Linked DNA regions of Homo sapiens: region 1 is linked to region 2. Evidence: fine-mapped expression QTL. A gene starts in region 2. The other region holds a variant in brackets. All regions are shown on one strand. Distances are between the middles of the regions. Region 1 holds the start of LOC101927284 (a long non-coding RNA gene). Region 2 holds the start of SOX21 (SRY-box transcription factor 21).

What was found. PIP is the estimated chance that this variant, and not a neighbour inherited with it, causes the effect.
Region 1: its variant is fine-mapped to the expression of SOX21 in testis (GTEx, PIP above 0.99).

What each region holds. Positions count from the first base shown.
Region 1 is chr13:94,758,134-94,774,756 of GRCh38, forward strand. LOC101927284 (a long non-coding RNA gene) reads left to right here and starts at 2,808. Exons shown (of 5, transcript NR_110754.1): 1 at 2,808-2,919; 2 at 6,275-6,418. It also overlaps the pseudogene BRD7P5 and the pseudogene RPL21P112. The variant CGCAATCAACT/C (reference allele first, on the strand shown) is at 7,747.
Region 2 is chr13:94,706,696-94,723,318 of GRCh38, forward strand. SOX21 (SRY-box transcription factor 21) reads right to left here and starts at 5,850. Exons shown (of 1, transcript NM_007084.4): 1 at 2,927-5,850. The coding sequence starts at 5,354. The coding sequence ends at 4,524. It overlaps SOX21-AS1 (SOX21 antisense RNA 1), which reads left to right and starts at 6,021. Exons shown (of 2, transcript NR_046514.1): 1 at 6,021-6,698; 2 at 6,943-9,250. It overlaps LOC112268114 (a long non-coding RNA gene), which reads right to left and starts at 6,748. Exons shown (of 2, transcript NR_158368.1): 1 at 6,713-6,748; 2 at 6,025-6,567. It overlaps LINC00391 (long intergenic non-protein coding RNA 391), which reads right to left and starts at 1,806. Exons shown (of 3, transcript NR_170286.1): 1 at 1,656-1,806. RefSeq lists enhancers at 1-1,068, 1-414, 6,574-7,075.

The sequences.
Region 1 (16,623 bases), 51 kb after region 2:
GATATTTGTAAACGTGGAGTCATACGTGGTGCATAAGAACTGTAGGTCCAGAATTCAAGTCTCACACTTCTGCAATGGGATCCACAGGGTGGAGAAGTCCCAACGTTGTTGTTCCATCTGGTTTTCTTCTTTCAAATTCACACTGACGGTTCACAGGCTGTCTGGTCAGCTTTCCTCCAGATTCCTTCATAACTTGGTCAAGCTGCTCCTGCTCTCTCTCTCTGAATTATTGCTTTTAAACTTATCTTCAAGCATATCTTTGTCTATATTTTAATTTTCTTTGCCGGGACTCTGGAAGGCTTGTGCTTCGGCATCTCCAGAGTCCTCTCTCCCTGGGCCAGCAGCCTTCGTCCTCCCCACTCTGCCTCCATCCTCCCCAGTCTGTTCTATCTTTCTGCTTTCGAGTTTTCTGCAAGTCAGCCATGAAGTCTATGCTCTGCTTCAGGCTCTGAATTCTTTCCTGGCTAAGAATAGTCATCCCCCAGTGCAACAGCTTCTTTGCAGCTGTATAATAAATGGTCTCTGGTTTGTTGTAAATCATGGCATTAGTGCACATTAGTTTGAAGTTATCCTTTAGTTCTATCGACTGGTAGTCATTGTTCTTGACCTTTTCTTTCATAGTGCTAAAATCCCTTGGGTGTTTAATGATCATGGAGTAGCCAGGAGCAATAAAATCAGTCACAGGAAATGAAAAGAAAGCACTTGGGTCTTTTCTCTGCAATTGTCTCATCAGTTGATTCAAAGCTTCTTGAAGGGGTGTCTGTTCTACTTCTTCTTGTTTGGCTAAAGAGCTTGTGAGAGGATCTCACACGGGCATGACACTGGAGGTCTTTTTCTGCCTCATTCTCCACAAGGTCTCGATCTCGCTTCTTTTTATCCTCCCTAACTCTCCTCCGTTTTCTCTCTTTTTCTTCCCCTGGATCCTGCTTCTCTCCTTTCTTTCTCTTTTTCTGCTTTCTGTCCTTGTATTTGTCATGATCTTATTCGCCTTCGAAGAGGCTGGAGTCGTGCCCTGAGCTGCCCGTGGAGAATTCGGTGACTTCGTTCCCTCCTACTTTGAGGACCAGCCTCAAGGGCTTCTCTACATACCCCTCATAGAAGTGTTTGTCTGACTTGCGCTCCTTGTGCTTCTTGCCCCTGTCCAGCTGGCCCCGGTGCCCGCCCCCAGAGCCAGGAGCAGGCACGCAGCGCAGCTTCCGGTCCAGGCCAGGCCCGCGCAGGGCGGGAGCGGCCCCTTAGAGGCCCTGCGCGCCGGAGGCAAGGGGGCGGCGCGAGGTCCCTCTCAACCCATGTGAATTTAAGAAGAGTTTTTTCTAATTCTGTGAAAAACGATGTTGGTAATTTGATAGGAATAGCACTGAATCTGTAAATTGCTTTGGGCAGTATGGCCATTTTAGCAACATTGATTCTTCTTACTCATGAGCATGGAATGTTTTTCCATTTGTTTTTGTTGTCTCTGATTTCTTTCAGCAGTGTTTTGTAACTCTTGTTGGAGAGATTGTTCACCTCTGTGATTGGCTGTATTCCTAGGTATTTTATTCTTTTTGTGGCTGTTGTGAATAGAATTGTATTCTTTTATTATTATTATACACTATCCTTCTGCAGCATAGAATTGCATTTTTGATTTGGCCCTCAGCTTGGATGTTTTTGATGTATAGAAATACTACTGATTATTGTGCGTTGATTTTGTATCCTGAAATTTTACTGAAGTTGTTTATCAATTCTAGGAGGCTTTGGGCAGAAGCTGTGGGGATTTCTAGGTATAGAATCATATTGTCTATGAAGAGAGATCATTCAACTCACTCTTTTCCTATTTGGATTCCTTTTATTTCTTCCTCTTGCCTGATTGCTTTGGCTACGACTTCCAGTATTATATTGAATAGGAGTCATGAGAGTGGGGATCCTTCTCTTGTTTCAGTTCTCAGGGAGAATGCTTCCAGCTTTTGCCTGTTCAGTATGATATTGGCTGTGGGTTTGTCATAGATGGAGACCTGAATTATCAGGTCCTAGTGGATACCTGAATTATCCTAGTTAATATAATGCTTAATTTGAAATCTGATTCTTTTTTCTTCCCCAATTCTTATTAATGATTTAATATCTTCTCTACCTTATCTTACATATTTTGAACTACATTTGAATAACTACATTGCATTCATTTTTTTGTACTAATGTTTACATTGTTTCTCTTTGAGTTCTACAGACTTATCTCTAGCTTTTATACATAATTTTTACATAATATTAATATTAAGATGTGATTTACAGTGTACTCTCTTCTTAAAATTATTCATTTTACCATATTTTGTGGTTTCAAAGAGCTTTCAAATTTATTTTTGCCTGCTCTTTCCCTTCCTCCTTCTCTTCCTCTTTCTTCCTTTACAATCCAGAAGTCTTCTTCTTCTTCTTTTTTTTCACCTGTTATACCATGAATTCAGTTAATAGACTCCAGCAGCTCAGGCTCCTTTTCATTGGTTCTTACAAAGTGTGCTTCTCTGGGTGGAACAGGCTGCAGCTTCAGGTTTCTCTTTAGCTTCCCTCTTTATGCTGGTTATTTTCCTTCACACACTTTCAGGAAATCATCTTGGCTCTTAGAGTGCTTAATATGCCCAATATGCATATTAATTCTCTTGGCAAGAATCTTGCCCTTAACTTGTTTGTTTACAATGATGCCAACAGCATGCTAGGTAACTTTGTAGACTCTTTTAGTTTTGCCATGGTGACATTTGTGAGGCATTTCTTTTTGGACAGTACCCATTCCCTTGGTGTCTACATTATCGCCTTTCTTGTAGATATGCACTTATGTTGCCAAAGGTACAACTCCGTTTTCTCAAAGGCCTAGGGGACCTCAGCAGTTGCCTCTCTTCTTTCCTCTGTGTTCGTCATTTTATCAAATTACTGGAAGCTGGGAGTTGAGGCCAAAAGGTACTTTCCTCTTCTTAAAAGTAACCTGAGTGTTGTATCTCTTCTCCTTGCCTGGAATTGTGCTATTTCTTGCATTCTTCTTCTTCTGGGACTCGAATTCTAACTGTTAGACTTGCTTCTTGTTTTCTCTGGCTTTTGCCTTTATTGATGTCTCCCTTCCTTCCCCTTTCTCCCCATCTCCTTTGCTTCTCTTTCTTTCCCTTCATTTTTTCTTCCTTTTTTGGGGAAACTTCAAGGTTCTCTCTTCTAAGGAAACATTTATTTACCTTCTATCTGTTGTTTTTGGATCATGCCAAACCATCATTTGAGTTTTGTTTTCTCTCATGTTCCCTCCTGAAATCCATCCTGTTAATCCTCCCTGGCATTCCACCCCTCACAGTTCCATCCCATTCTCTTCTCCCTGTTCCCTTCTCTTACACTCAGAAAAGTTCTGTGCACTTTTGGGGCATGTTACCTGTTTTGATTTTTTCTTCTGTGTTTTCATTCTGAGCTCTTAGAGCTGGCCCAGCAAACCTGCCTGGGCTTAGCAGTAAACCTGTGTCCTTTTCTATTACAAAGAGCAGACACATCTCCATAACCAAGACATTCCAACAGAGGAATGTGTGTGTGTCCGGGGGGATGTGTGTGTGTTTCTGTATCAACTTTAATCTTTTGCTGACTCGAAAAGTCAAACCAAGTTAAAGAAAATCATAAAACAGCCCAAAACAGACAGGTTTGATATTCCCTCTTTCTTCAGGTCTATATTATATATTTCCTTATTCCAATCAAATATTTACTGTTATTTTTACTGAAAATGTTACTGCAACAAAAATATCTTTTTATTACTATACTGTACACTTTAAAATGGCTAAGATGGTCAATTGAATATTTTTAATTTTTTTTTGTTTGTTTGTTTTTTGAGACAGGGTCTCACTCTGTCACCTAGACTGGAGTGCAATGGTGTGAACACAGCTCACTGCAGCCTTGACCTCCCAGGCTGAAGTGTTCCTCCTGCCTCAGCTTCCTGAGTAGCTGGGACTACAGGCATGCACCATCATGCCCAGCTATTTTTTTTTTTTTTAATTTCAGTAGAGATGAGGTCGCACTATGTTGTCCATGCTGGTCTCAAAACTCCTGAGTTCAAGTGATCCTCCTGCCTCAGCCTCCCAATGTGCTAGGATTACAGGCATGAGCCAGCACTCCTGACCTTCAATTGAGTTATATGTGCTTTTCACCACAAAAAAAATTTTAATTGAGACCACAGTGTTTTCCATCTCCATAGGTATGTTCTTAAGGAGAATGAATTGCATTCTGAATCATTAGGAATGTTTTCCAAAAGCACTTATCTTTTCCTCTTAATACTGCATCCAAAATAAATGTTTTTTCCCCTAATAATATGAATCACCCACTAAACTCTTTGCTTCCTAAGATTTGAATTGTAAAGGTTCTTGTATGAAGAAAAAGCTCAATAAGTGTTTGTTGGATGAATAGGGAAACCTTAATTTATCTCATGCCAGTTGTAATAATAATTAATATCTTCAGCACCACTACTATTACATCATATTTACCACAACAGCTAACATGTATTGGCACTTGCTATGTGCCAGGGAATAACCCTTCAGAGATATTATCTAATCATAGCAGCTGTATGTAACTTTGTTTTTCTTTAAAATAACTTAATTCGGATTTCAAGATCTCATTCTATCAAGGTTATAGCTGCTTTTATCTCAGACACTTCTGGGTTGTTTTTGAGTTTGTTTCTGGGTTGTTTTTCTAAGTTTTAGGGTAGAGACAGACACTTTTTTTTAACCAATATAACTGCCCCCACCCCAACTCCTTTATTTACAGACTCTTGATACCATATTGAGCAGCGAAGTGCCAGCTGACTATTCCTTTTCTTTGCCTTCTTTGCAGCTGGGGTAACCAATTCTGGCCAGTGAGACATAAGAAGAAGTCAGCTGGAAATTTCTAGCAAAGCTTTTGATTTCAGATGGCTTGATGCTAGCTCCTCCCTCCCTCTTCTTTCTTCCTGCTTTGATCTCAGATATGATCCCTGGAGCTGGGGCAGCAATCTTATGACCATGCAGGAAAAGCCAAAAATTACAAACACATTGTTGAACTATAGAACCAATTTGTAACCATCTGTTTTTTGGACATCTTATTATGTGAGAGAAATAAAGGTCTCTTTCTAAAGTCATTAGAATTGTCTTTTATGCTACTTGCAGCTGAATGTATTCTTAAGTAATACATGAGAGTTATAGAGTGCCATGGGTGTGATGGTTCTATTTTGTATTAGGGTCACTATTATCCCATCTGGTCCTTCATTACCATTCCACACAGGTCATCACTGAGGTGCCTTGTATGGAATGATTGTTGTAAGCCCTGCAACCTTCTATTCTAGATCTTTGCTATGATGGTGTTGATGGCAAGGGTCCCATCTGTTTCTGTGCCACTCAGGGATACGAGGATATTTTCAAGGCTGGCTATGGCTCTGTGGTGGACTATTACAATGATGGCTCTGATTTAACCACACCTTTAGGTATTCATGCCTTATATAGTCCTCCCCACACTGACTCTAGACTTGGTCTCATGACTTACTTTGGCTGATGGGTCATTGGCAAACAGTGCAAGCAGAGGCTCAGTAAGCTGCTTGTACATTGGGACTGGTCTGCTTGGAATGTTCCCAGCCACCATAGTATGAGAAACCCAAGCCCTACAGTGAAGCCAGTAGAAGAAAACTGAGACACTCCAGTTGACTCCCAACTGAGCAACCAGCCAACCACTATGAGCAACTGCCACCTATGCAAGTAAGCCATCTTGGGTAGTCCAACCAATTGAGCCTCCAAATGACTCCAGCCTCAGGTGAACCATATGGAGCAGGCATCTGAGCCTGGGTAATTCACAGAATCATAAGAGGTAATAAAATGCTTGATGACTTAAGCCACTAAGGTTTGGGGTATTTTGTTTCACAGTAATAGCTAACAGGAAAAGACCTCTTCTTCTTAGGTACAAAATGATTTAGAGAGTCACAGTGTTATAATGAATAGTACAGCTATACAATTATTAAAATAGATAAGTATTTGCTTTTGCATTTTTGCTGCAAGTCCTATATATATAGTGCATATGAAACACAAGAAACCTGATACATTTATAAGCCATTTCGAAACACTACATTTTCTATTCTTTTCCACTTAGCATTTATATAGTGCTCATTATCACAGAATATAGGGGCTTTACAATATTATTATTTAGCATTTATATAACACTTTTTGCCTTCAGTGTATACTACAAATTATTTTACTTTAAAATCATTTAAATTTTAAAAGTACTTTAAAATCATTTAAATTTTAAAATTATTTCATAACTCTTTTTGCAGAGGAGAAAATATATAATAGAGCCTGAAGATGTAGTTGTATTGCTTCAGTCTCATGATAAAACTTGAGTGGATGAGGAGTTGCTTCTTATGAACGAGCAAAGAAAGTGGTTACGTGAGAGGGAATCTACTCCTAATGAAGATCCTGTAAGTATTGTCAAAATGACAACAAAGGATTTAAATATTACATAAATGTTGTTGATAAAGCAGCTGCAGGGCTTGAGAACATTGACTCCAATATTTAAAGAAGTTCAACTGTGGGTAAAATGCTATCAAACAGCACTGCATGCTACAGAGAAATCTTTCATGAAAGGAAGACTCATTTGATGTGGCAAACCTCATTTTTTTTTCATTTTAAGAAATTGCCACAGTCATCCCAACCTTCAGCAACCACCCGCTGATGAGTCAGCGTCCATCAACATGGAGGCAAAACCCTCCACTAGCAAAAAGATTACCACTCACTGAAGACTCAGATGGTGATGACCATTAGCATTTTTTAGCAATAAATTATTATAAAACTAAAATATGTTCATTGTTGTTTCAGACATAATGCTATTGTACACTTAATAGATTATAGTATAGTGTAAATGTAACTTTTATATGCACTGGGATATCAAAATATTTGGGTGACTCACTTTACTGAGAGATTAACTTTATTGTGGTGGTCTGGAATGGAACCCACAATATCTTTGAGGTATGCCTGTAGTGAAATATCCCAGCACTGTGTCAGTCAACAATGACAACAGTCCTGGGCATTGATGAAGTTCAAGAATTGTGTATTCCATGAATATGCCTTCTGAGCTCCTCTCCTCTTAACAAACCCTCTAGAGTGGTTCCCATGGTGCTCCCTGTTAATGTGGCAAAACAGCATTTCAGCATGGCTGAGGGAGCTCTGACAAAGATGTCCTGAAAGCATTGTCCTGCATGTGCCCTGTTTGGGAAACCTGAGGGAAGCCTTAAGGCTACAGTTAATTAGGAATGAATTTTTTAATCAATGGTTAGGAATAATGGACTTTACTATTAACGTTTTTTGAAGAATGAATATTAAGATTATGATTATTATCAAGAGTTTTAAATGACATAATAAAATGCTTGTAAAATTATCTCAAGTGTTAACTGCAAAGTACAAAAGTGTATTGAAGTGTGATCTCAACTTTGTAAGTATAGACACAAATATTTATGGAGATCTGCATGGGAGATTGAAAGGAAATATGCCAGAATCTTTACAGTGATTATTTCTAGAAATGGGATTATGAAGGATTGCTTTTATATCCCTGTTCTTTTAAAATATTCCGTAAGTAGGTGTTACTCCTAGAATTATAAAAAGTTATATATTTTTCTTTAGAGACTTTATTTGTTGGATTTGGTTTGAAGAGTTATACATTTGTACAATTCAAATATCAAAATGCTTTAACAGGGTAAACATTGAGAGGTCTTACTGAGGATGGAGGCAGGACGTGACTCAGGAGGCAGGA[CGCAATCAACT/C]TCAGAGGCAGGGCCCAGACACCGGACCAAATTGAGGACTAACTAAAACAGGGAGGAGGTGGAAGCACCTTTCCATAAGACACACCTACCAGTGTGCCATGTCAGTTTACCATTGCCATGGCAACAACCGGAAGTTACCACCCCTTTCCATGGCAACAACCCAACAACCCAGACGTTACCATCCTTTTTCTAGAAATGTCTGCATAATCTGCCCCTTAGTTTGCACATAATTAAAAACGGGTATAAATATGACTGCAGCACTGCGTCTGAGCAGCTATTCTGGGCACACTTTCTATGGGGTAGGCCTACTCTGCAGGGAGCAGTACTTCTGCTGCTGCTGTACACTGTTGGTCCAATAAAAGTTGCTAATACCACTGGTTTGCCCTTGAATTCTTTCCTGGGGGAAACCACGGACCTTCCCAGGCTAAGCCCCAATTTGGGGGCTGCGTCATCACCTCTACTCTGGTTTTCATCTCCTCCACTTCTCTATGAACAACTACTCATTTAGTTTCCTCTGCATTCTTCCTGAGTTCTTTTTGCAGATATAAGCAAATTTGAAAGCATGTTGTTATCCTCTCCCCTTTCTTACACAAAAACAACATTACATACACTGCTTTGATCCATGGACTGTAGAATGGATGTACTATTAGCAGATGTACTAGTCAGTTCTCACATTGCTTTAAGAAATACTTGAGACTAGGTATTTTATACATAAAAGAGGTTTAATTGGCTTGGGGTTCTGCAGGCTGTACAGGAAATACGATGCTGGCATCTGCATGACTTGGAAAGGCCTCAGGAAACTTACAATAATGGCAGAAGGTGAAGGGGGAGAGAGGTGTCTTACATGGCAGGAGCAGCAAGAGCAAAGGGAGAGGTGTCACACACTTTTAGACAACGAGATCTCATGAGAACCCACTCACTGTCACCAGAACAGCACGAAGGGGATAGTGCTAAACCATTCATGAGAAACATCTCCATGATCCAGTCACCTTGCATCAGGCTCCACTTCAAACACTGGGAATTACAATTCCACATGAGATATGGGTGGGGACACAGACCCAAACCACCTCAACAGGCATGAAAACAACATTAATTTCTTTGTACATCTCCATCAGAGCTCATAAGTGACCAGGTATATTGTCAATGAGCAGTAATGTTTGGAAAAAAGCAATGTTTTTCTGAGCAGTAGTTCTCAATAGTGGGCTTAAAATATTCAGTAAACCATGTTTTAAACAAATGTGCTGTCATCTGGACTTTATTTTCCCCTTTTCAGAGCACAAGTAGAGTAGATTTAGTGTCATTCCTAAGGACCCTAGGATTTTCAGAATGGTTAATGAGCATTGGCTTTAACTTAAAGTCTCCAGTCACATTAGCCCCTAACAAGAGAGTCAGCCTCTTCTTTTAAGTTTTAAAGCCAAGCATTGTCTTCTCTCTAGCTATGAAAGTCCTAGATGGCATCTTATTCCAATCCAAGGCTGTTTTGTCTCCACTGAAAATTTGTTAGCAAAGCTACCTTTATCAATGATCTTAGCTAGATCTTCTGGATAGCTTGTTGCAGCTTCCCCATCAGCACTCGCTGCTTCACTTTGCACTTTTATGTTATGGAGAAAACTTTATTCCTTAAACCTCGCAAACCAACTCTGCCAGCTGTCAGTTTTTCTTCTGCAGCTTCCTTACCCTTCTCAGCCTTCATTCATTGAAGCTTAATTATTTCTAGCTTTTGACTTAAAGTGGGAGACTTGTACCTCTTTCTTTCACCTGAATACTTAGAGGTCATTGTAGGGGCTATTAATTGGCCTAATTTTAATATCACTGTGTCTCAGGGAATAGGGAGACCCAAGGAGGGGGAGAGATGGGGAAACAATGGTCAGTAGAGCAGTCAGAACAAAAACAACATTTATCAATTAAGTTCATTGTCTTATATAGGTATAGCTCATGGCACCCCAAAACAATCACAATAGTAACATCAAAGATCACTGCTCTCAGATCAACAAAACAGATATAGTAATAATTAAAATGTTTGAAATATTTCAAACTTTGAAATTTGAATATTGTGAGAATTACCAAAATGTGACACAGAGACACAAAGTGAGCGATATACTCGCTCAGCGCAGGATCGACACGAACCTTCAATTTGTAAAAATGCTGTAGTATCAAATATTTGTGTTGCTGGTAAAACTTGGAATGGAGAGGAAAGACAAGAGGATGTCAAGAGGTGGTCTTTGTTTAATGAGTTATTCATAAGCACACTTATTATGTAGCTCTTCCAGTACTACAGTGGGGGGTGTGTGTGTGTGTGTGTGTGTGTGTGTGTGTGTGTGTTTTGCATGTTGGTCCTTTTTTTTTACAAATGAAATATATAAACATATTGAAATGAAGTTTAGCAAGAAGTCACACAGTCTTGTAGTTAGGTTATAGAAGATTTAAAGTTGAAAGACTTGCATCTGAATTCTGGTTCTGACTCTTAAAAACTGTCTTTTTTTCAAAACTCTCTGTGGGGGTGAGGGGAGGCCCTGTAGCCCACCCAACTCCAAACTAAAGAGTCCGAACTAGATTTGGTAGATGTGTCTTTATTTATATTTGTATATATTTTGTTAACAGGGCTATAGCATGATTGAAATAATATTCAGCAGAGGCTAATTTGGCAATGATCTGGCAGATGGAATGGAGAAAAGAGAGACAGAGACAGCAGACTTGGGAGTAGTCCAAGGGAATAAAGGAGGGAATGGAAAAAGGAGACTGTGAAGGAAGAACTGATGGGGTTTGAAAATTGCTTTAATGCTAGGGGCAAGAAAAATGGAAACAAATTAGCAAAAAGACCTATATTTAAAAGAGCAGGTGGTGAGGGATTAATTTGGAAGTGGGAAAGGGCAAATAATGAGTTTAGTTTCAAACAAGCTGAGCTTCAAATGCAATATATACACAAAGAAAGAAAGGGGAGTAGCAAGATGAGATGGGCAAGAAAAGTTAAATATGTGGGTAAAAGAATTCAGATGCTAAACCAGAACTGGGGGCAGCATGAGAGACACATGGTAAGGATGTTCCCAAGATGGTCTGGCAAAGGTTCTCTTTGGATCCATAAGGCAACAGAAAACACAGATTATTTAATGAAATTGAAACAATAAGCAGAATATTGAGGAGTGACACCAAATTTGACTGAAAGCTCCATTCTAAAGAGATGAATAATTCTTAACGTGAGACGGGGGGTTTATGATATATCAACTTAAGAAGTACTAGAATCTAAAGCCATTGTCTTCAAGTGGGGACTCCAGGGAACACCCAGCAGTTGATGAAATCAGAAAATTTTTATGTCATCCCAAAGGAAACTGAGATACAAAAGATTGAGATACACTGCCCCTGCTGACTGTGAACAACCTTTAAAATCTGCCCTTGGCTTTGGGAATGCTTTGAATGAATTTGCTGTGAGTTGCTTAAGAAGAGGCAGAGGGCGGAGTTTGCAACTAGAATTGTTAGGAAGAAATGAATTGGATTACAGAGATAGAGAAGATGCATTCTCATTCTAACGCCCAAATATATTAGGTCTTTAGGTAACTGAATAGACAGGAAAAAAAACAAATAGCAAAAGCATAGACTACAGTTTCCCCTTGAGGTGGTAGCCTACATGAAGCAGTTGAGAGAAGCATGAAAAGTAGTTTCTTACAAGAACTTTAATCAGTCTTTGATTATCGACATTGGTCTATGTACCTTGCAGATTAACCTTGGAAGTTACCTTGTTTTCTTCTAGTTGGCTACCTCAAATTGACAATTCCAAAGAGCATACACCCATTTTCATTTAAGAATATATAAAAACGCATTAAAAATTTTTCCATGAAAATAATTCATAATTGTTTGCTTTCCAAAATCCAGTGTGAAGAGATTTTTAAATCATCTGATAATTTAGGAAGATCTATATTAATACAGTGTTTCAATAATATCTTGAAAATCAGATTGAATGACTTCCTGGAGTGAAACATTCCCAGTCCTAAATCATTCTCTGGGAAGGGAGACATATTTGAACAGCTGTATATCAGTTTTTTTTTGTCTCATTATATACAAGTCTTTGTATTTTCCATGTCCCCAGGTCAAAGACCACCAGAGACACAAAGTTGGTTTATTGATGGAATTGGGTCAGTTGGCTCATTGTGATGAGGGAGACCTCACATCACGAGGCACCATGGGGCATCTCAGTAAGAGGATGTTGAAAAGATCTTATTATAGGCCTGGGACATGTTTAGGAGATTTTAGGGAGTGTTCAAGGCTGCTGTCAGGAAGGAGGGACTATTCCACGACTGACATTTTTACATTGCAGGTGAGAAGAACAATGCAAGGCTAACATTGTAATTGTCAAAGCAGCAGCAGTCACTAGGCCCGAATATGGGATGTTTGGATGGTTTTGTGGCTTGGACAATATTCTTGTTTTGTCTTGATAGATCAGACAAAACAATGGCCTTGAATGACATTGGTATCCTGTGCTGTGAAACAGCTTATGTTAAATGGATGAACACCATGGCCTAGCTGTGGGTGGCGAGCCAGCTCGTAGCAACACTGGGGCCTCGCTGATAGTACCAGCCCTGCTCTCCACTAACTGAGGCTGCTTTTCTCTTAGTATGAGCTCTCCCCAAATGCTGCTACTTTCCAGTTTCTCAGCAATTAGCACCATGTGTGTTTATTCATCCAACAAGTTTCTATTAAGGACCTCCTGTGTGCTAAAGCTATAATAGTAGGCAAAACAGGTATAGATCTCTTAAAATTAGAGACAGTGAGTAGAAGAAAGAGGGAAATTCATTAATTTTTAAAAATCCAGATATTTCATTACAAGCTGAGATAGTTATTTTGAAGGAAATATGGAAAGAGTTCTCAGAAGCTGTAACTATTCTAAAGAGTCAAAAAATGCTATTTGAGCAGAAATCCAAAGGATAGGTGAGAGTTGGTCAGGTGAAGAAGGTGGGGAGGGAGGGTGGGAAAGGCATTCTGGGTAGACTGAATGGTCTACCATTCAGAATGCAAAGACCCTGAGGCAGAGAGGCTTTGGAGAAACCCAAAGAAGGCTAGTATGGCTGGCTCCCTACTCATCTCTAAGCTATTTCCAAGTCTTCTCTTCGACCAAACAGTATTTATTATAATATTCAGCATTTTAAACAATGAATTTAAAAACCCAATGGGTTGTTTGAAAGCCAATTAGCTTTAGCTGAAGAAAAGCCACCCTGATGGCATATAAGAGTTAATACAGTTTCCAAAAGCAATAGTCTTAGCCTCTGAGAACTCATCAAAACCTTTAATGTTCCAATTTGAACCTAGAACCTTAGTGTTTTCACACTGAATGCTTGGACCATTCCTGCTCTTCTCCCCTAATTTTAAAATTACTTTCTTGTATTCTATGTCTTTCCTTAATTCCCTAGCCCCCCTGAGGGTGGAGTTCTATCCTATTCCTCTTCACATGCCCCCCAGCACCTTGGCATTTAGTTGGTTTTGTTGGTTTAACTAACATTGATTGAGTAATGTACCTATTTACACTCCACACTAGGAAACAAACTCTAAAAGGATGGATCTGTCCTCAGAAAGTTTAGAGTTGTGCAAGAATCTAACCCACCATCTAATAAAAGTGAAATCCAACTTTTTAGCCACCTTATCAAATTATTCGACATAAATTTCTGTATGGCTCCTCCCATGATAAAATAATCTTTATTTTACACTTCAAGGAAACTACTTTTAATACTATTTTCTATTTTTTTCAAAATGAAGTTTGACAATTACAAGATGTTGTTACTGTTGTTAAAACCAAGTGGCTTAATTGTGATCCCATTTGCAATTGATGTTTTCACCTTAGGGTATTTGAAAATGAGGTGTGTTTCCTTTTATGTTTTCAATGGCAGCCCCTTGTAATGGTTGTATGAGCACAAGACTGAGAATTAGGAGCCCTTCATTCTGTCCCTGACTCACCAAGTTACCCAACTTAACCTCATCTCATCTGTGAAATGGGGATAATAATACTTACCTCTCTCACTGGGGTATCATGAGTATTAATTAGTGTTTGTCAAGTGCTTTGAGATCTTCAGATGAAAGGCCCCGTGGAAGCTCAGTATAAAGTACTATTCTATAAATCTCCCCCACCCCCCACTTTCACCTGAACGGTGATTACCAATTATAGCCAGCTCTAAAAGGCGCTAATGCCGCATTCAGACACGACAAGGCAAGTTTTATTGGTCCATTAGGACATGTCTACTTGAAGGAATTAGTTTTGTGAAAATGGTTATTATGCCAAGGGCTTTTATTTTAGGCAGTCGTTGCTCTTAGTAGTTAATAGTTAAATATTAAGCCATTTGGAAAGACTGGTTTCACGTTTTGATTGGAAGGACAAGCCTTCATGCCATGCCATTTACATCTAAAGAAGCTTAGGCATGTGGTGTGGGAGAACCTACTTCCCATAAAATGAAATTATATTTATATGGAAGCCAACTTTGGTTTCTGAGAAACCAGCTGGATGGTGAAGACAATACTATCCACTTAATTAGAAAAGGAAGAAGTGACTCCCACATATAATTATCTGGATTCTAATTTCAAAGAATTCGTAACTCACGAAAGATTAATTCTGTCATTAGAACCACATTTCATATGTGGCAGCAAGCTAAATCAGTTCATGGTACCTTTTTTTAAAAAAAAACTCTTAGCAAGCTAATGTTCAACTGCAGAAAGGGGGCATGAACTCTTAGCTGATTGTTGGATTGAAATAATGTATGTTCTTTGAATAATCAAAACACTATTAATTTATCCTGTTCCAGGTTTGTTTGTATGTTTTTTCTGATCTACTATCAGAGATTTTCCTGGTTCAAAAGTAATTGATTATTTCCTCAGAAAGCAGGTTATTAGCTAGATGAGACCATTTCAGAAGCTAATTGAGTTGTTACAATGAAGATCTTATTGAGAAGTCAGGTGACATATTCATATTTTCATGACTACAAATTTCTTTTTAAAAATAAAAAGTAGAAATTCTTTAAAAAGTCAGTTTCGTCAATCATTGTAGAATTGTGTTTTTAAAAAATTTGAAAGGCAAGACAGAAGATAGAGTGACAAAATTTTACCATTATTTTTTCATATAGAAAGTAATAAACTAGTTTCTGATCATATAGATCACAAGGTGACTTATCTTCATGAAATTAATTCATGTCATGTTCATAAACACTGTATGACCTCATTTAGATTCATTCCCACTTTGTGATAATTTAGGTGTAAAGAGCAGTAAAGCCACCAGTGTTTTACCCATGAAGACAGTGCTCCTTGAGTAAATTCACTGTGTAAACAAGGGAAACGGACTTTCTTTACTTAAGAGTGAGGTCTAACATTGTCCAGGGCCTGAGAAACCAGTTAGTGGCATTGTGGGCATACAAAAATCATGTCAATTACAGATGATTCTTATCTATCTATTAACATACCTAGCAGTCCGCAGCTAAGACTTATAACCCCGTTATCCTGATCATAATTTTGCTGTTTGTTTACTAACACAAACACATATCTTTTTTTAAAAATCACAGATTTAAGTGATCTAATGAGCTTTCTTCTATGTTTATTTTATTATTCTAAAAATATTTTCATCAACACTGAAAATCATTTATTCATTCATTCAACAAACACTACCCCAACTGAGAATGCTATTGTCCCTGACTGGGAGGTGGGAGAGTAGAAAGACATTTTTTAGAAATGTTGGCCAGGCATGGTGGATCACACCTGTAATCCCAGCCCTTTTGAAGGGCAAGGAGAGTGGATTGCTTGAGCCCAAGAGTTCAAGCAGCCTGGGCAACATAGTGAAACCTCATCTCTACTAAAAATAAAAATTAAAAAATTAGCCAGGTGTGGTGGTGCACGCCTGTGGTCCCAACTCCTAGGGAGGCTGAAGCGGGAGGATTGTTTGAGTCCAGGGGATCAAGGCTGCAGTGAGCTATGATCATGCCACTGCAGCCTGGGTGACAAAGCAAGACCCTGTCTCCAAATAATAAATATTTTAAAATTGTTGTGTAGTGTGACATAGAAAGGAGAATCTTATTTATTCTGGCAGATTATGGGGAGGGCAGATGGTGGAAAGGATGATGCCAGGCTGCATCTTCTGAGAAAACAGTGAGGAGTTGTGAGAGGTGGGGAGGGGGCAGGCAGGAATGGAGGGGTAGCTGGCATGCACCGGGGTGGGCAGACTGAGAAGCAGGGCAGGCTCTGGTCAGCAGTGGCCTTACTATTCATGCTAAACAAGTTTGATTTTATCCCAAACATGATTTGACATTGTTGGAGGGTGTTAGTAGTGGGATGTGACCAGATTTAGGTTTAAAAGGTCTCTTGGGGGCTGGGCGCGGTGGCTCATGCCTGTAATCCCAGCACTTTGGGAGGCCGAGGCAGGTGGATCACAAGGTCAGGAGATAGAGACCATCCTAGCCAACATGGTGAAACCACATCTCTAATAAAAATACAAAAATTAGCTGGGCGTGGTGGCCCATGCCTGTAATCCCAGCTACTTGGGAGGCTGAAGCAGGAGAATGGCTTGAACCCTGGAGGCAGAGGTTGCTGTGAGCCGAGATCGTGCCACTGCATTCCAGCCTGGTGACAGAGAGAGACTCCATCTCAGAAAAAAAAAAAAAAAGATCTCTTGGGAAACCCTGCTACTTTCCAGACCTGGCTTATCATCAAAACCACTAAAATACACAAACAAAAGCAAAAACCCTTTTAAAATTTCTTTACAAAGAGTGAAAACACAAAAAACCAGAATCATATAAAAAAGGAAAGGCAAACGATTCCTTGTTTCCTTCACACTTTCACTAACATAAAAAGGTTGTCTATCACTTTTTTAAAAGTTTTCTCCCAGTCTTTATGCAGATCCAAGCAAA
Region 2 (16,623 bases):
GCCTTGTAGATCGCATTCTAATGCTAATCTAGCGTGTTAAATATCTTTTTGTTCCCCTTTCACCGTTTTGTCATTCAGTTTATCCAGTTTTGGTCACCCATTTTATTTATTTATGCGCCTGCTCCTATTCAGGGGCTCATGTATTTTTTATTATGTTGTTTCACTGTCACGCAGTGTCAACTTAGTCTATTCAATGGGGGCTACTTGAAGGCCGGAGGGACAAAGCGTGTACACATTGCACCGCTATTCATTCCGGCCAGCTGGATCGGCTGAAAAAAAAACCTTGTGAAAAGAAACGCCTCACAATGGACACAGAAGAAGTGCACAATGCTAACAGTTTTCCAAATACCACTGATTGGTTTCTTCACAATGAGGAGAAAGCCGCCGCTTTTTCTTAGCTCCACTTCAACAAACAACACTCTCACAAAACCTCCCAACCCTGCGTTTTGTTCTCGGACAAAACCTCCTCGACTGTCTAAACGCTCCCACTGAAGGACAAAAAAAAAAAAAAGGATAAAAAAAGCTCTTTTCACCATTTCCCTTTTTTTCCCCCCTGCAAGAGAGAAAAAAGAAAAGGGGGGGAGGAATTGTCAGTGCATTAATAATATCAGTCTTTTAAAAGAAGAGGGCTGACCTTTGAGATGCACTGGGCTGAGGGAGAAAGAAAGGAGGAGAGATTAATAAAGTTTGGACGGCTCCCTCGGCCTCCGCTGGGCCGCGGGCGCAAGAAAGACGCGGACCCTCGAGGCGGACGAGTTGCGGGAACTTCGCTTGCCTGGAGGACACGGCGGCCCAGGCGGCCGGGAGCGCCGGCGCCGAGCCGCGCTCTGATTGGCTGGCGCGACCGTCCCTATCTGCTCCGGGGAGAGTGGAATCTTCTCTCCATCTTCTGCGCCCCGAGCCTGGGGTGAGAGGGAGATCCGCGGTGCTTTCTCCTATCTTCTTGGGGGAGGGGGAGGAGGAAATTGTCAAGGGAAGTAACAATCGCGGCCAGCAACCCTGCTCTCCCAAAGCCACCCCCTCGCGCGACAGCGTCCCCAGCACCAGTTCTTACTGCTTACACAGCGCAATTCCACCTGTTTGCACAAAGCCCGAAGCAACATGCCTGGCCCCTTGGATACGAGGCTTGCTTCAAGTTTTGGGACAACGGTGAATACCAAAGAAATTGCATCATGGCTTTAAAAAAAACCTTGAAAAGAAACGAAAATAGAAGAATAAAAGGAAGGGAAAGAAGAAAGATGGAAGGAAGGAAGGAGAGAGAAGGAAAGAAAGAAAAATGGAGAAACAGGGAGAGAGACGGAGATAGATAAAGAGATGGAGATAGAGATCGCGAGCCAGCAGCAGCTCTCTGCCCAATCACAGCGCTGCATTTGTGGGCCACTTTCAGACGCTTACACCACCCACCCCCGGGCCTTTCTCTACGCCCTCTTGCCCCGGAGCCGCTCCCCCCGCTCCAACCCCTTACTTCTGCACAGTCTAACTTGGCAGGAGGCTCTCTGCAGGCGCAAAACCCGCCAACTTGTTAGCAAGACCATTGGAGTCAGAATGGGTGATAAACGAGTCTGTGGGGCCTGTGGAGGTCCTCAAACAGCCGCACAATCTGTTGGCGATATGACCTCGGTGCTCCCCCTCGGCATCCTCACCCCTCCTCTTACCCATCTTTCCAGTCCTCTTCTCATTCATCAACAACTCCGGAGCGTTTCTCCCAGAAAACGCTGATCTTTGGGAAAAGGGGAGGGGGCGGGAGGAGGCGGGGAGTCTTCAGGCCGAGGAGGCGGCCGAGCTGGAAGGCTCAGGGTGGTAACTAAGATTTAGGGCTGGGGTGATTTCCAGCGAGCCGCAGGAAGTTCCGTGTTGAGAAGGGATGGGCTGCTACAAAAGGGAAAGACGAAGCCTTGAAAGGATTTAATTAACCGTGTCAGGGATAATTACCCCTGGACAGTCCAAATTAGTTTTGCATAATCGCTCAGAACCATATGAATTAACTTATAATATTGCAAAGAGCTCAGGGAATAACAGGAGAGGGATCATTTTAATTAGTGAATCAGGGTCAAACCAGCAGAGCCTATTTCTCACATTTCCAAAACTTTTCATGGTTTTTAAAATATTATTCCGTTGGGGGAAAACAATGACTTTAAAGACTTGGGTCGTTTATAAAGACGTGCAGCTCCAGAGATGGTCTCAATGGGGAAACTGGTTTAAGACTTGTATATAGTATCTTGAGAATTTCCATTTTGGTTGCGGGGGGGCGAGATCTTCCTATTTTTTTTTTTCTGACAGTCTTCTATTTCTTGTCTAAAATTAAAATCCTTTATGATTTTTCAAACTTTAGTAGCAATTTGTCTAGCCCTAGAAATCCAACCCTCTCCATTTGAATGTTATACTTCTACTTTAATGCGATTAGCATAACAAAATTAAGTCCTAAAGAGGCCAAAATTTGTACTTTGTCGTTAGTAGTGATTATCCTTCCAAATAAAACCTTAAGGTGTCAACAAGGAATACCCCAAAGATAGGAGAACAAATTACACTGATTTAAGTGGTGGGGCTCTTCAACTAACAAGATAAAGTGGTCAAGCAACTTTCCCCTCTTAAAATGTTACTAGAAACTGGTGAAATGCTTTGAAAGGTCTGGATGTTTTCAATGGGCTCTGTTCTACTGGTTCATGAATGCCTTTTTTTTGTTGTTGTTAAAGCTAATACAACGACTTGGGCTTTTTAAAAATCTTCTTTCCTATTCACGATTAAAAATGTGATAAATCAGGTTTTTGGCTCTGAATAACAATGGCTTGATTTAGATTTCCTAGTAAATCTATTCAAAAGTGAAACAAAGGGTGCCTTTGGAGGATACCTTACACTTCACCTGGACCAGGCACGTAAGGGCAATTCAGATAAAAATCTTGTTAGGAACTCAACAAGAAATAGAAGATTTTTCTTTTCCCTGGTTCAGGCTTTATTTAAACTCTTTGTTCAAAAAAAATGAACAGAGTGATAGTCGGATTCTAATTTACAGATATACCTTAGACGTCTAATATTAAATTAGAAGGTCACACTAGAAAATCATTTACACATAAAGGTTAAAACCATATTTAAAATTTTAAAAACTTTATATTACATAAAGCCAAAATGAAACTAAATACATGTTAGCCAACTTCATTCACAAACATTAGTCAAAATATATACATTTAAAAAGAAACAAAGCTAATAATTGAAGGTTCCTTTTTTCTAAAATGTGTTTTATTGCAATTTGCAAATGAATTGCAGGTGATCTAAAAAATAAGCCAATTGAGGAGGGAAATCCAAAACACATTAAACCAGCTCAACTTGGGAGAGAAATGCTAGCTGAAAATGAGAGACATCTGTTGAAACAATTCTGTGCTTTTTTTCTTCAGTTTTGCTAAATAATAAATATATAATTACCAGACAAAAAAGTCTGATTTAATCTTCGATAAAATTGCGATTCTGAAATAGTTTCGCAATTTTTAAAAGTTAACTTTGATATTCGCTCAAAATGTTTTTGAGTCTAAAGTCGACTCAAACTTAGGGCAACGAAAATAACACATTTTCCAAGCCTCAATGTTTTCACTGACATATACACATTTACAATCTTAAGGTGAACTCAGCCATAAGGGAAAATAGGAGCAGTGCCTTTTTCCTTTTTTGTAAACTGTGTCAGAAATCCAAGCGAGTGGACTCAGGGAGACTTCTAGTAGTTTGTTGTTGTTGTTTGTTTAGGAAGAAAATCCAATTGACAACTTTCATCTCACAAATATTTCTTGTTTGCGTTTCTTGCCCTTGAGAAAGAGCTCTTGCTCTGATTTGCAAATGGCGTGATAAACAAAAGAAACCGTGATCATCTCACACAAAAGGCCAGATTCGAGCCGGTCACTGGTCAAGAATGGATCTGGTTGGGAGTTCTGCTTGAGAGAACAGAGATCTGCAAAGTTCAAATAGTACAAACAGGGAGGCGAGGCTGCTCAGAGCCATCCCACTCCCAGAAACGAATGACACAAGCAGCTTTTCCCGTGTGCCAGCCATTTCAGACCTCACATTTGAACAGCGTGCATGCAACACGGACCGGGAGGGGGTTGGGGGTTGGGGGGCTGAGGGGCGAGGAAGAAGAATGAGAAACAAAAACAAAACCGACCATGAAACTTCCAACAAAACTGGAAAGGCCAACATGTCAAAAAGTTACTCCTCCACCTCCGTGGGTCAAAACGCAACAGGTTCCGAAGTGCAAAGCAAACGCCAACTGCTGCCGCACACAACCGCCTGCTTTCGAGTTGGCTGCCGAAGTGCGGGTCTGAAATGATCCTGCGAATTCACAGGCCTGCTCGCCCGCGCCCTTGCGCGCTTGGCCACTCCTGCCCCGCCTGGCCTCTCTGCCTCTACCTGGCACCTATACATTCTATGTACATACAAACCGGGCCCCCGGTCGCGGGAGGGCGCACGGGGAGGCCGCAGCGCTCGTACCTATACATATGTACACGTGTGCACACCGGTCCTCGCGAGGCGGCCCCGCGGGGTCATAGCGCGGCAGCGTAGGCCGCGGGGTAGGGGTCCAGCTGGGGCTTGCCCATGCCCGGCAGCAGGATGTAGGCGAGCGGCGGCTGCAGCCCGGGGCTGGGCCACGCGCTGCAGTTGCACGGGATCATGTAGCCCGGGTTGCCCGGGCTGGGGTGCGAGTGCGTGTGCCCCCCGGCGGCGGCGGCCGCCGCTGCAGCCGCCGCCGCCGCGCCGTGGAAGGCGCCCGCGCCCGCGGTCGGGTAGCCCAGCGACGACGCGTACGGGAGGCCGGACGAGGACGACGAGATCTCTGCCATTTTGGAGCCCAGGTCGAGCAGCGAGTAGGGGCTGCCCGCGGCGGCGGCGGCGGCGGCAGCGGCGGCGGCAGCGGCCGACTGCGGGAAGAAGACGCGTGCGGCGGCAGCGGCGGCGGCCGCGGCCGCCTTCTCGGGATTGGCGAGCAGCGACTCAGGCACCAGGCCGCCGCCCGCCCCCGCGTGCAGCCCGGCGCCCGCCTTGAGCGCAGGGTGCTCGGCGTCCGCCACGCCGCCCAGGCCGTAGGGCACCGGGAAGGCGAACTTGTCCTTCTTGAGCAGCGTCTTGGGCTTGCGCCGCGGCCGGTACTTGTAGTCGGGGTGCTCCTTCATGTGCATGGCGCGTAGACGCTTGGCCTCGTCGATGAACGGCCGCTTCTCCGACTCTGTGAGCAGTTTCCACTCGGCGCCCAAGCGCTTGCTGATCTCCGAGTTGTGCATCTTGGGGTTCTCCTGGGCCATCTTGCGCCGCTGAGCCCGCGACCACACCATGAAGGCGTTCATGGGCCGCTTGACGTGGTCCACCGGCTTGGACATGCTCTCGCCCTGCCGCGGCTGCAGCCCGCCGCCTCCCGGGCCCTCGCCCTCGGCCCGGAGGAAATCAATGTTGGCTGCCCGCGGAGACCCGCTCGGCCGGCCGGGGCTCGTCGCGCCCCGGCGTCGCTCCCGCCCCGGAGGAGGGGGCTGGGGGACCAGCCCAGGGCCACGCCGCGCCCCGGGCCGCCTTAGTGTCTCCGGCCGAGCGCTCGAGCAGGTTGTCTCTGGGACACTCTAACTTCTCGGCGGTGCCCCCTCCCCGCGGCGGCAGTTTGCCCTTTACGTTCTTTGGGTCCTTCGTCTGCAGTGGCGTTTGCTGGTGAGCTCCCCGCAGGTAGCGGCGGCCGGGCAGAGCGCTCCTCCTCCTCGGTCGTTCTCTCTTAAATGCAAAGCGTCCCCAAAAGTTGCGTCGCGGAGACTCCTCGAAGTTGAGCCGAGGAGCCCGCCGCCGCGTGCTGCCAAGTGCCAAAGGGGGCTCTCAGCGGCTGGAGTGTTTGGGTTCTCCTCGGTGACTTTCTCATTTGACAGAAGCAGATGGGGGTGGGGAAGGCGGGGAGGTGGCCCTGGAGGAGGAAGAGGAGGGGGAGGCGGAGGAGTGTCCAGGCGTGCCACGAGAACGCAGAGCGCAGCAATGGATATAAATACAAATACAGCAGCACCAGCCTGTCTTCTTGGCTCCGGGCAGGGTGCGCCGATGGGAAACCCCCAATCGGCTGGGTGATTTTTTTTTTTTGGAGGGGGGAGCTGTCCCCCGCAGCACCTGCCTCTCGAGTCTTCCTCTCCCGCTGCTGGACTGACGGGTGGGGCGAGGAAGGAGGGTGGATGAGGCTTGAGCAAGCGTTGGTCGCCCGGCCTCAGAGGAAGTTCTCCCGGCTCGCCGAGGAGCCGCGTCCGGCCGTCCCCTGGGCCATGCCGGCTCTGTTCGCTCCGAGCCCCTTCAGGCGCGCCTGCCGACTTAGGGCTCCCGGAGCTCGCCGGCCGCGGAGGGCAGCGCAGCCTCCACGCGGCGCCGCAGGCCTGGCACCGGCCGCGTCCCCGCCTCGCTCTTCTCGGCAGCCGCCTGGCACTTGCAACTAACTTCGCCCAAGTTTCCTGCGCCGCGGCGCCCCTCTCGGCGCGCTCCTGGGAGCGTGCGCCCGCGAGTCCGCCGCGCCCGGGGCCCCTCTGTCCTCGCTGCTGTGGCCAGAGCCGAGCCGGCGCAGGGGCGGAGGTGCTGCAGGAGAGTTAAGGAAAACGGGCCATCACCTCAGTTCGCAGGTCCGCGCTGTGGCACCTCCCGCTCTCCCCACTCCCGCGGCGCAGGGGGCCCCTTCCCAGCCCAGGCCGCCCTCTGCACCGGCTCAGGTGAGTGTGGCTACCTGCATGTGTGCGCGCCCGGAGCCGGCACTGGGTGTGCATGTCCAGCCGCGGCTGTGTGTGTATATCTGGGGGCCTGCGGAGGAGGTGGAGCCCAGGACTCGGGGAGGGAGGAGGGATCAGCGGAGCCGCCTCCCGCTCCCACACCCCCAGGACCTCGAATTAACAGATCCCCTCCGCCCCCCGCCCCCTCCCAATCCTCCTCCTCCCACTCCTTTTCACTTGAGAGCAGGTTTAGGCGAGTGGAGAGTCCGGAGCGCGCCGGGGAGTCTGCGCCCTGTTTGGCGTTGGCAAACCCTGGTGTCATCCCGGCTACCCAGGCCGGCCTGGCGTGCAGCTGCCCTGGTTGTGGCCCTGGAATCCTCGCCGGGAGGAAGAAGGCGGCGGGCACGAGTAGGAGAGCCTCTCCAGCTACGGAGGAAGAGGGTTAAACCTGGAGAAGGGGAGACTCACCCTTGAAAATGTTTGAGACTGTTCCTAGCAAGAAAGTGCTCATTTTCCTTGGAGGTCCAGGTGTTGCTTGCAACAGAAACAGAGGCTTCTCGCATTTTCTTGCACTGGCGATGCACCTAGTCAGAGGTAGTGGAGTGAAAAATAACTCTGGAGGGAATAAGGACATTCTTGGCAACCTTTCCAAAAAAGAGCTAGCCCAGACTGAGAGTATGCATCCTTGACTGACTATTCAGCTCTTTAAAAATTCTGTGTTGTTTGTCTTTTGTTGTAATCTTGGTCGCCAGAACCATCTATATACTGATCTCTTTAAGGTACAGTTAACTTACAGTGTCTCACTTACATGCGCTGCTGAGGTGAAGGTGTTTAAAATCAATAAGTGTAAGTAGTTTCCCTGGAAGAGAGAAGTAAAACGTACCAATCACTCAGTGCTGGAATATTTTTATGCTAAGCATAATTTCCTTCTTTAGTAGTTAGAGCAGTTTTTTAAAAAAAATAGTTAACACGATGCAGAAGTCAAACAGCATGATTCTGTTTCCGTATTTTCCTCACTTTTTGGTATGCTGCGGCACATTTAGAACATGATCTGTCTGGAGGTTTTATTCACATGGTGGCCTGCCCTTCAGGGAGAACTTGCTTGCCTTCTTTCTTTGGCAGTTTGGATTTGACCTAGCCCTGTGGTATGTGCAAGTAGGAACATCTACAAACGGTTAACTCTTTAAGTCTTCCTACGATTTATGTTCAGTTCATTCACACACACACACACACACACACACACACACACACAAAAGCTTTGATTGTAATTATGAACGTGAATTAAAACTGTTTCAGGCCATCAGATTTATGTAAAAGTTAGGCTTGTTTTGTTCATTTTAATAAAAGAATAGTGACTTAAAAATTACAGTCGTGATAACAAAACTGTGAACAGCAGTGGCATCTATGTGGGTTTTTGTTTTTCTGAAGATGTCGTATTGACAAGCTTATTTTGTATCGGTTATGCCCTTGCATTGTTAAAATAATTGGACTGATTTCTCCAGAACCATATTCCTTTACAGGCTCTGTAAAGACACTCTTGTCATTCACAGACTCTGGCTGGAGCAATGGGAAAACACTAGCATGTGTAATTACATAGACTGGAATATTAAATATACTGTTTTGTGATGATAAACTACAAAATTATCGTCCCTGAGCTTTTCACCTACTGACTTATAGGTTTGAGACAAAAATACTATACACTGGAACATAAAGAACATATGTATATATAGGCCACAAAACATGAAATCTGTTATTCACTAAATATTGTGAATAAAGTTAAATTTAATCGTGAAAATTATTTTGACACATAAAAAGGGAGAAGGATTGTGAAAATGTGTTTTATATTAGTGAGTTAAGTGATTTTATACTATTCAAATTTAAGTGTAAAAATCTACTGCAATAAATTATTACATTAGAAATGTTTGTATATATGATTGAAATGTATGCTTACATGTGCAATGTCTTATAGGAATAATATATGTAAGGTTCCTTGGCTATAGTTTTTTCCAGTATACATTTACAATATTGTCTGTCTAGTGATATTAAATGAGCCAAATTTGAACACTCTCAAGTCCAAGAATGTTGAACTGTGGGAAACAAAGGTGTCATAAGAAGAAAATGACTATTTGTGTGCTTGTCTATTCACCAAATGAAACTTCCCACATTTCAAAATAGGAAAGATTTGGTTTTAGTTCTTGGCTTCTAGGGGATCAATATTCTTGGCCTAACCCTTCACAACCAAAGAAAGAGCCCTCATAATCGGCCATTCATTAAAGAAAGGCAATGTGGCATTGCTGTTATTAACCAGCCTTCACACCTCTTGCCTGAATCTGGTTGAGCTTTTAACAAAGTAAATTTTCAAGCCATTTTCATTCATATGTACCAAAATGTAAATTTGCTTTTAATTTCCTCATATCTTGTGTTTGAATTGATAGAGGTATATTTTTATTCTTGCTCAGTTTTGTCCTAAAGATTAAAAAAATCCCAGCATATAGGAAATGGAATAGTCTGTGTGAGTGAATAGTGAAGGAAAATAAATTGAAAGAGAATTGTAAGTTTGATGAGCTTTATTTTGTCAACTCTTGATTGTAAACACCTAAAGAACAGTATAGATTTGATCGGTAGAATTCGTGTGGGTCTGTATTTCCCTTGCGGCCACAGTGATATATGTGATCGCAAATGTATCTAGTCGGAAACTGAGTGACACTCCCTCAGAAAAAGTTGTGGGCCTGTGTAAATTGAGTTTCCTCTTTTCCCCCTTCAATTCTCCCCAGAAAATAGTCTCTTTTCAATTCTAAAACTTTCACTAGGAGGCAGCAATGAGATTGTTGGGGAATAAAAAATACCTTGGCAACACGACAGGCTGGCTTGCTTGCTTTCTCTTCCACAAGGGAGGGGAGAATTCTTGGGTCCCAATGTGAACAGAATCATTGTCCCCCATCATTTCATCCTCCTCTCTCTCATTGGATTTTCACCTAGGTGGCTCATTGTCACATTTTTCTAGAACCATAGGGATGATAAAGCAGCAAGCCAATGGGGTAATGAGAGGTGACTAGATGGAAGTGATGGGCAGTGAAGGTGATACCTTCAAAGTGCAGAGGCCAAATAATCATTCATGGACACTGAGAGCTGACAGCTGTTGTTAGAGAATGTTGGAGATCTGTTCTTAAGCAAGTGCAGTGGAAGAATTCAGAAGCTTTCATACCTGCATAGAGAGGTGATATAGCCTGTTTGTCCTGTTAAGAAGAAAATGAGAAGACTGTGACAACAGCCAACCCTGAGGCTTTTGCCACAGTTCTCTGGTCTCACTCCTATTAGCCCCCAAAAGGGGGAAAAATCCCAAACACATGATCTCCGTAAAGCCCAAGAGACAAAAAGAGCTGTTTGAGGTCAAGTCATGATGGAAAGCAACGGCTGTAAGAGTGGCCCTTCACCAGTGCCTGCTAATTTTTTTATCCTTTTGAGATTTCTGTCCTTTTATTCTCACTGTTACTGCCACACTTGGAAACTGGGAATATACAGATCAATCATGGAGAACACCTTTCCTCATGTCTCCTGAGCAGGGCTCAAGCAGGCTGACATTTTCAAAAGGAGCCTTACCTAGAGGATAGAGCAGGAAAAACAATGTCAAAAACAGTCCCCTCTTGCCCCCCGCAAAAAAAAAAATAAGAGAAAAAAGACAATACAAATAATTCAAAACAGACAACTTCACAAAGTACCTATGTCAAATCCCAAGAATCCTATAAAAGCATAATTTTCTTAGGATAAGAACCTTTTTTGTTTTGTAAGTGAGAGGGAGCTAATCTTGAATAAAACTAGAAATGAATGAGGAGGGTTGGATAGTGAGGGTGTCATTGGCCTGGGTAGTGAAAACTTCCAGCCTTCTGTAGCTATTACATGAGGAGACTGGCTTTTGGTAGGGTGGGGTTCCTTGTGAATGATGAATCACCAACCATGCCCCCGTTTATTTTGAGAAGAACAAACCTGAGAAAGGGGGTTCTCTTAAATATCCCAGCAGGGTGGTAGATAAGCCATGCTTCTGGCTTTACAGAAGTCACTCTGACTGTCCCCCTCTTCCAGCTTCTGGCTTGCCCAGCCCTGTGCCTTCCTCCCACTCATATTCAGGTTCCTATCTAAGGACGGGTCTGCTTTAGAGCTAAATTGCTGAGTGGCTCTGCTTCTTAAAAGAATAAAAAAATACATAGCTATCAGTTATTGAGTTTTAAGATACCACACCTTTTGCACACATTATTCTATTTAACTTTTAGGAAAACCCTGTGATGTAAGCATTACCATCTCCAATTTGCAGACTGGGGAACGAAGCCTTAGAGCAGATGAGTAAGTAACTTGCCTAAAGTCACACAACCATAAAAGGAAGAATTGGGATTTGAACTAAGCTGATGTTTTTAACCTCCAGCACTTAGAGTCCCAATGGAAGGCTCAGCCCCTTTCCAGTGCAGATTCTCAATTCTATCTACTTCCCCAAGCTTTGTGTGACTCATTCAGCGCCCCACTCCCTCTATGAGGGAGTAGCCCAGTGGCAATCTCCCCAGTAAGGCATTCCAACCCCACAACAACGACACCCCAATCAGAAGAAGCAGTTTCTCTAAGTCCCATCCCTGCTGTTCTGGGGCCAGGCCTCCCCTTGCTCATGTAGCCCTCAGCACAGATTTGGTGTCAGCTGCAATCCACCATCACTCACTCCCTAGGCCTCCCGCTGCAAACACTGAACAATTGCCTGCCCTGAATAAACCCAATCTCTACCCTTTCTCTGATAGCCAAAGGCTGCTCCAACAATGTTATCTAATTTCAGTCTTTATTTTCTCCCAACCCTAGATGTCCGGCCTTTCCCTCCCTTTCTACCTTTCTTTTGTGAACCCCAAGTACACAAAATTGGTTTAATCACAGTTCGTGACTCATGATTCACTCTCATAATTGGTCCATCAATGGCCTAGTTTTCTTTAGTTAGTTATATTTAATACTTTAACAAGTGCTTTTATGAGTCCACCACTCAAAATAAAATCTGCCAATAAACCTAACTAAATGATCTCTCCAGTAAACTCTGCACTCGCCTTCCCCAACCCAATGTAGCTATTTTCATTCCATTGATTTTTATATAGTTTTGCTTTCTTTTTTTTAACAATACATATAGCATACTTATTTATTTATTTATTTTTTATTAGTATACTTTAAGTTCTAGGGTACATGTGCACAACATGCAGGTTTGTTACATATGTATACATGTGCCATGTTGGTGTGCTGCACCCATTAACTCATCATTTACATTAGGTATATCTCCTAATGCTATCCCTCCCCACTCCCCCCACCCCACAACAGGCCCCAGTGTGTGATGTTCCCCTTCCTATGTCTAAGTGTTCTCATTGTTCAATTCCCACCTATGAGTGAGAACATGCGGTGTTTGGCTTTCTGTCCTTGCAATAGTTTGCTGAGAATGATGGTTTCCAGCTGCATCCATGTCCCTACAAAGGACATGAACCCATCCTTTTTTATGGCTGCATAGTATTCCATGGTGTATATGTGCCACATTTTCTTTATCCAGTCTATCATTGATGGACATTTGGGTTGGTTCCAAGTCTTTGCTATTGTGAATAGTTTATATAGTTTTTCATCTAGATGTATGCTTTAAAAATATGTTTTTATTTTATTGTGTTTTTAACATAGAAGTTTTCATAAGTTAAATTTTTTGTATGTAATCTTTATTGTCTAACTTTTGTATATAATCTTTATTGTATAACTTTGGATTCATCAATGTTACTGCATGTCACTGTAGTTTATTCATTTTAGCTGCTACTAATATTTGGTTATGTAAATATACCACAGTTTATTGCTTACTGTCATGTTGATGAGCATGTGGGTTGTCTTCAGTTTTTAACCATTATGAACTGACTGCTATATGCATTCTTGTTTGTGTCTACTGTTGGACATGTGTACAAGTGAAAAGCTGTAAAAATGGGAAACCCACTTGTGCTTTACCCTTTTTCCATGTAGATCCCTTTGAGTTTCTGTTCACTTTTGATTTTTTTTCTAGGCATTCAGGGGTTTTTATATTTTTGTCCCAAGTTTATTATTTATAGGAGGGTTGGTCTTATAGGAGCCATTTCTGTGTTACCAGCATCCATCTGAAATTGATTTTTATGTATAGTATGAGGTTTGACATTTTTTCCATATAGATAGTCAATTTTTTAGAACCATCAATTTTAAAAATTGCATTTTTATACCACACATGTGTGCTACCTTTGCCCTAAATAAAATTGATGTAAGTTGGTTTCTGAGCTATTTTGCTTTATGTTTAAAATTTTTTCTATTTTTGCACCATATTGCACTATCTTAATTCTGATAAGGAGCAAGTTCTCCCATCATTTTCATCTTATTCAAAAGTATCTTGGCTATTCTTGGCCTTTGCATTTCTATATAAATCTTAGAACAGATTGTCAGGTTCCAAATACTTTCTCTCTCTCTCTCTCTCCCTCTCTCTCTCTTTTGAAACAAGGTCTCACTCTGTGGCCTGGGATGGAGTGCTGGGGCATAATCATGACTCATTGAAGCCTTGACCTCCCAGGCTCAATATCCTCCCATCTCAGCCTCCCAAGTAGCTGGAACCACAGGTGTGTCCCATTATGTCCACTAATTTTTTATTTGTTGTAGAGATGGAGTCTCTTTATGTTGCCTAGGTTGGCCTCGAATTCCTGGGGTCAAGAGATCCTCCCATCTCAGCCTTCTAAAGTACTGGGATAACAGGCATGAACCACCATGCCTGCCCCCAAATATTCTTTAAAAACTGATTTTCTTTTCTTTTCTTTTTTTTTGAGACGGAGTCTCGCTCTGTTGCCCAGGCTGGAGTGCAATGGCGAGATCTTGGCTCACTACAACCTCTACCTCCCGGGTTCAAGCAGTGCCCTGCCTCAGCCTCCTGAGTACCTGGGATTACAGGCACCTGCCACCACATCCAGCTAATTTTTTTTTGTATTTTTAGTAGAGATGGGGTTTCATCATCTTGGCCAGGCTGGTCTTGAACTGACCTCGTGATCCACCCGCCTTGGCCTCTCAAAGAGCTGGGATTACAGGAGTGATTATTTTTTTTAAAAACCTTTTAATCAAGACTGCTATAAATCTCTAGGCTGACTTAGGGAGAATTGACATCTTCACATTGTTAACACTTCTAATTCACGAACTTAGTATCCTTCCATTAATTTCATTGTTCTGAGGGGCACAGTGGCTCATGCCTATAATCCCAGCACTTTGGAAGGCTGAGGTGGGTGGATCACGAGGTCAGGAGTTGGAGACCAGCCTGACCAACATGGTGAAACCTCATCTCTACTAAAAATACAAAAATGAGCTGGGCGTGGTGGAACACACCTGTAATCCCAGCTACTCAGGAGGCTGAGGCAGGAAAATCGCTTGAACTCGGGAGGTGAAGGTTGCAGTGAGCTGAGATCGCGCCATTGCACTCCAGCCTGGGCAACAGAGACTCCATCTCAAAAAAAAAATAAAAAATTCTATTGTGCTTTCATTTATCTCAGTAATATAGTTTTCTGGTAAAGTTCTTACACATTTAAAATTCCTAGGTTTTTAAAGTATTTTTGATACTATTACAAATTGCGTATTTTTAAGATGATATCTTTTTTTATATATTTTATAGTTTTGAGATGGAGTCTCACTCTGTCGCCCAGGCTGGAATGCAGTGGCTTGATCTGGGCTCACTGCAGCCTCTGCCTCCTGGTTTCCAGAGATTCTCCTGCCTCAGCCTCTGGAGTAGCTGGTACTACAGGTGCCCACTACCATGACCTGCTAATCTTTGTATTTTTAGTAGAGATGGGGTTTCACCACCTTAGCCAGGCTGGTCCCAAACTCCTGGCCTCAAGTGATCTGCCTGTCTCAGCCTCCCAAAGTGCTGGAATTAGAGGTGTGAGCCATGGCACCATGCCAAGATGATACCTTTTTTAAAAGATAGTGTCTTTTTAAGAATTTGATTTTCTGTTTGTTGCTGGTATGTAGAAATACAATTAATTTTTATATACTGACTTTGTAAGTTGCTATCTTGTGATACCATTTTTATTTTACTTTTTATTTTTTGTTGTTTTGAGACAGGGTCTCACTCTGTCACCCAGGCTGGACTGCAGTGGCCTGATCTCTGCTCACTGCAACTTCCACCTCCTGAGTTCAAGCAATTCTCATGCCTCACCCTCCTGAGCAGCTGGAACTATAGATGCGTGCCACCATGCTCTGCTAAGTTTTTGCATTTTTGGTAGAGACGGGGTTTCACCATGTTGCCCAGGCTGCTCTCAAACTCCTGGGCTCAGGCAATCCACCCACCCATCTTGGCCTCCCAAAGTGCTGGGATTGCAGGCATGAGCCACCGCACCCAGCCCAAAACCATTTTTAATTCAAATGATTTATTTGTAGTTTTTTTGAGGTTTTCTATGTCCAAAATCATATCATCTGTGAATATTGAGAGTTTTCTTTCTTCCTTTCCCATTCTTAAATATTTTATTTATTTTTCTTACCTTACTGCACTGTCTAGATTCTTCAGTTTGTTGCTGAACAGAATTCGTGATGGTAGGTGTCTTTGTCTTTTTCCTGATCAACGTACGGCATAGCTGGGGGTCACCGTACTCTTTTCAGAGCTTAACCTAGTCCAGCCCTGGTCCCCACTGCCACTCAATCACATACATCTATGCATCTTCCTGGAATTATGCTTGGTTATGCCTTTCTTAGTTTAGACAGTTGACCAAACAAGTCATCCAGTCTTTATCTCTAGAACAAGAACTCCACCTGGTTTAGTCCATGAACTCCGAACACTGAAGGAGTAACTCCTTCCTTAGTTCCTCCATCAGCTTAGCATAGATTTTTGCCAAATATAATTGCTCAGCACTTGCCTGGTTATGGTATTACGCTATTTGCTTCAGCTTGGTTTTATCCTGCTGTGCTATCTGCATCTCACCTTAGGAAACGTGGCCTCAGTACCTGCACCATTAGGCACAAACTCCAGAGTCTGTGTCACAGAGCCAGTTTTCCGTAGTTTCTTCCACTACTTCTGGAGCGTGTGACTGCTTGGTTCAGCCTCAGTGCCTAGTGTCTTGAAAACAAGCCAAGACCCCCAATCATTGCACGTGGTCCAAACATTTTAAATGAGGACATTTGTTTTACCCAACAGCATAGTGTTCCCTTCCTCTAGAGGCAGGGTAAAATAACCCATGAGCAAGCAAATGCCATAATTCCTTCTAATTTTTGTAACTGGAATGTAATAAGAGGACACAAGACGGGAATCCTGAAGTATTCAAGAACAGTGATTAGTCTGATAGCCATCTGCACCTAATCATCCCAGCTGCCTGAAAAGTTAACTCATGACCTCAGTGGACTTATCACCCCCTGGTATTTGTAGAGCCACATTGTAATTTAGTGCTTTGTTTGTGCACTAAAGTGTTTCTATACACTAACTTCCTAGTTGACGTGTCCTTTTGTTCATTATCAGCCGCCAATTTCACATTCCAGTCGGTTGTCAGGAGTGGCTAGACTCTCTGATCATAGGCAAGCCTGCAGCGCTGCTTTTCAATACACTTTTAAAACAGTATTTGACGTTTATGCATGTATATTGTCTACCAGCAAGTATATCTATTGCTGTCAAACAAAGCCCTGGATTTGATTAAAAAAAAATTTGTCTTCCTTTATTTACTTGAGGCCAAAGGGGGCATTCATTGTATCACAGGACTGGCTTTTTAGCAAAATTCTGACTTTACTATAAGGACACGTGGCAGTGAGTTAAGGGGTTAGCAACAACCTGACAAGAAAATACTGTCTGACGGATCTGTTAGTAATAACATGGAGTTGCGCTTTTTTTTTCTTTTTTCTATTTTTTTTTTTTTTGAAACAGGGTCTTACTCTGTCACCCAGGCTGGAATGCAGTGGT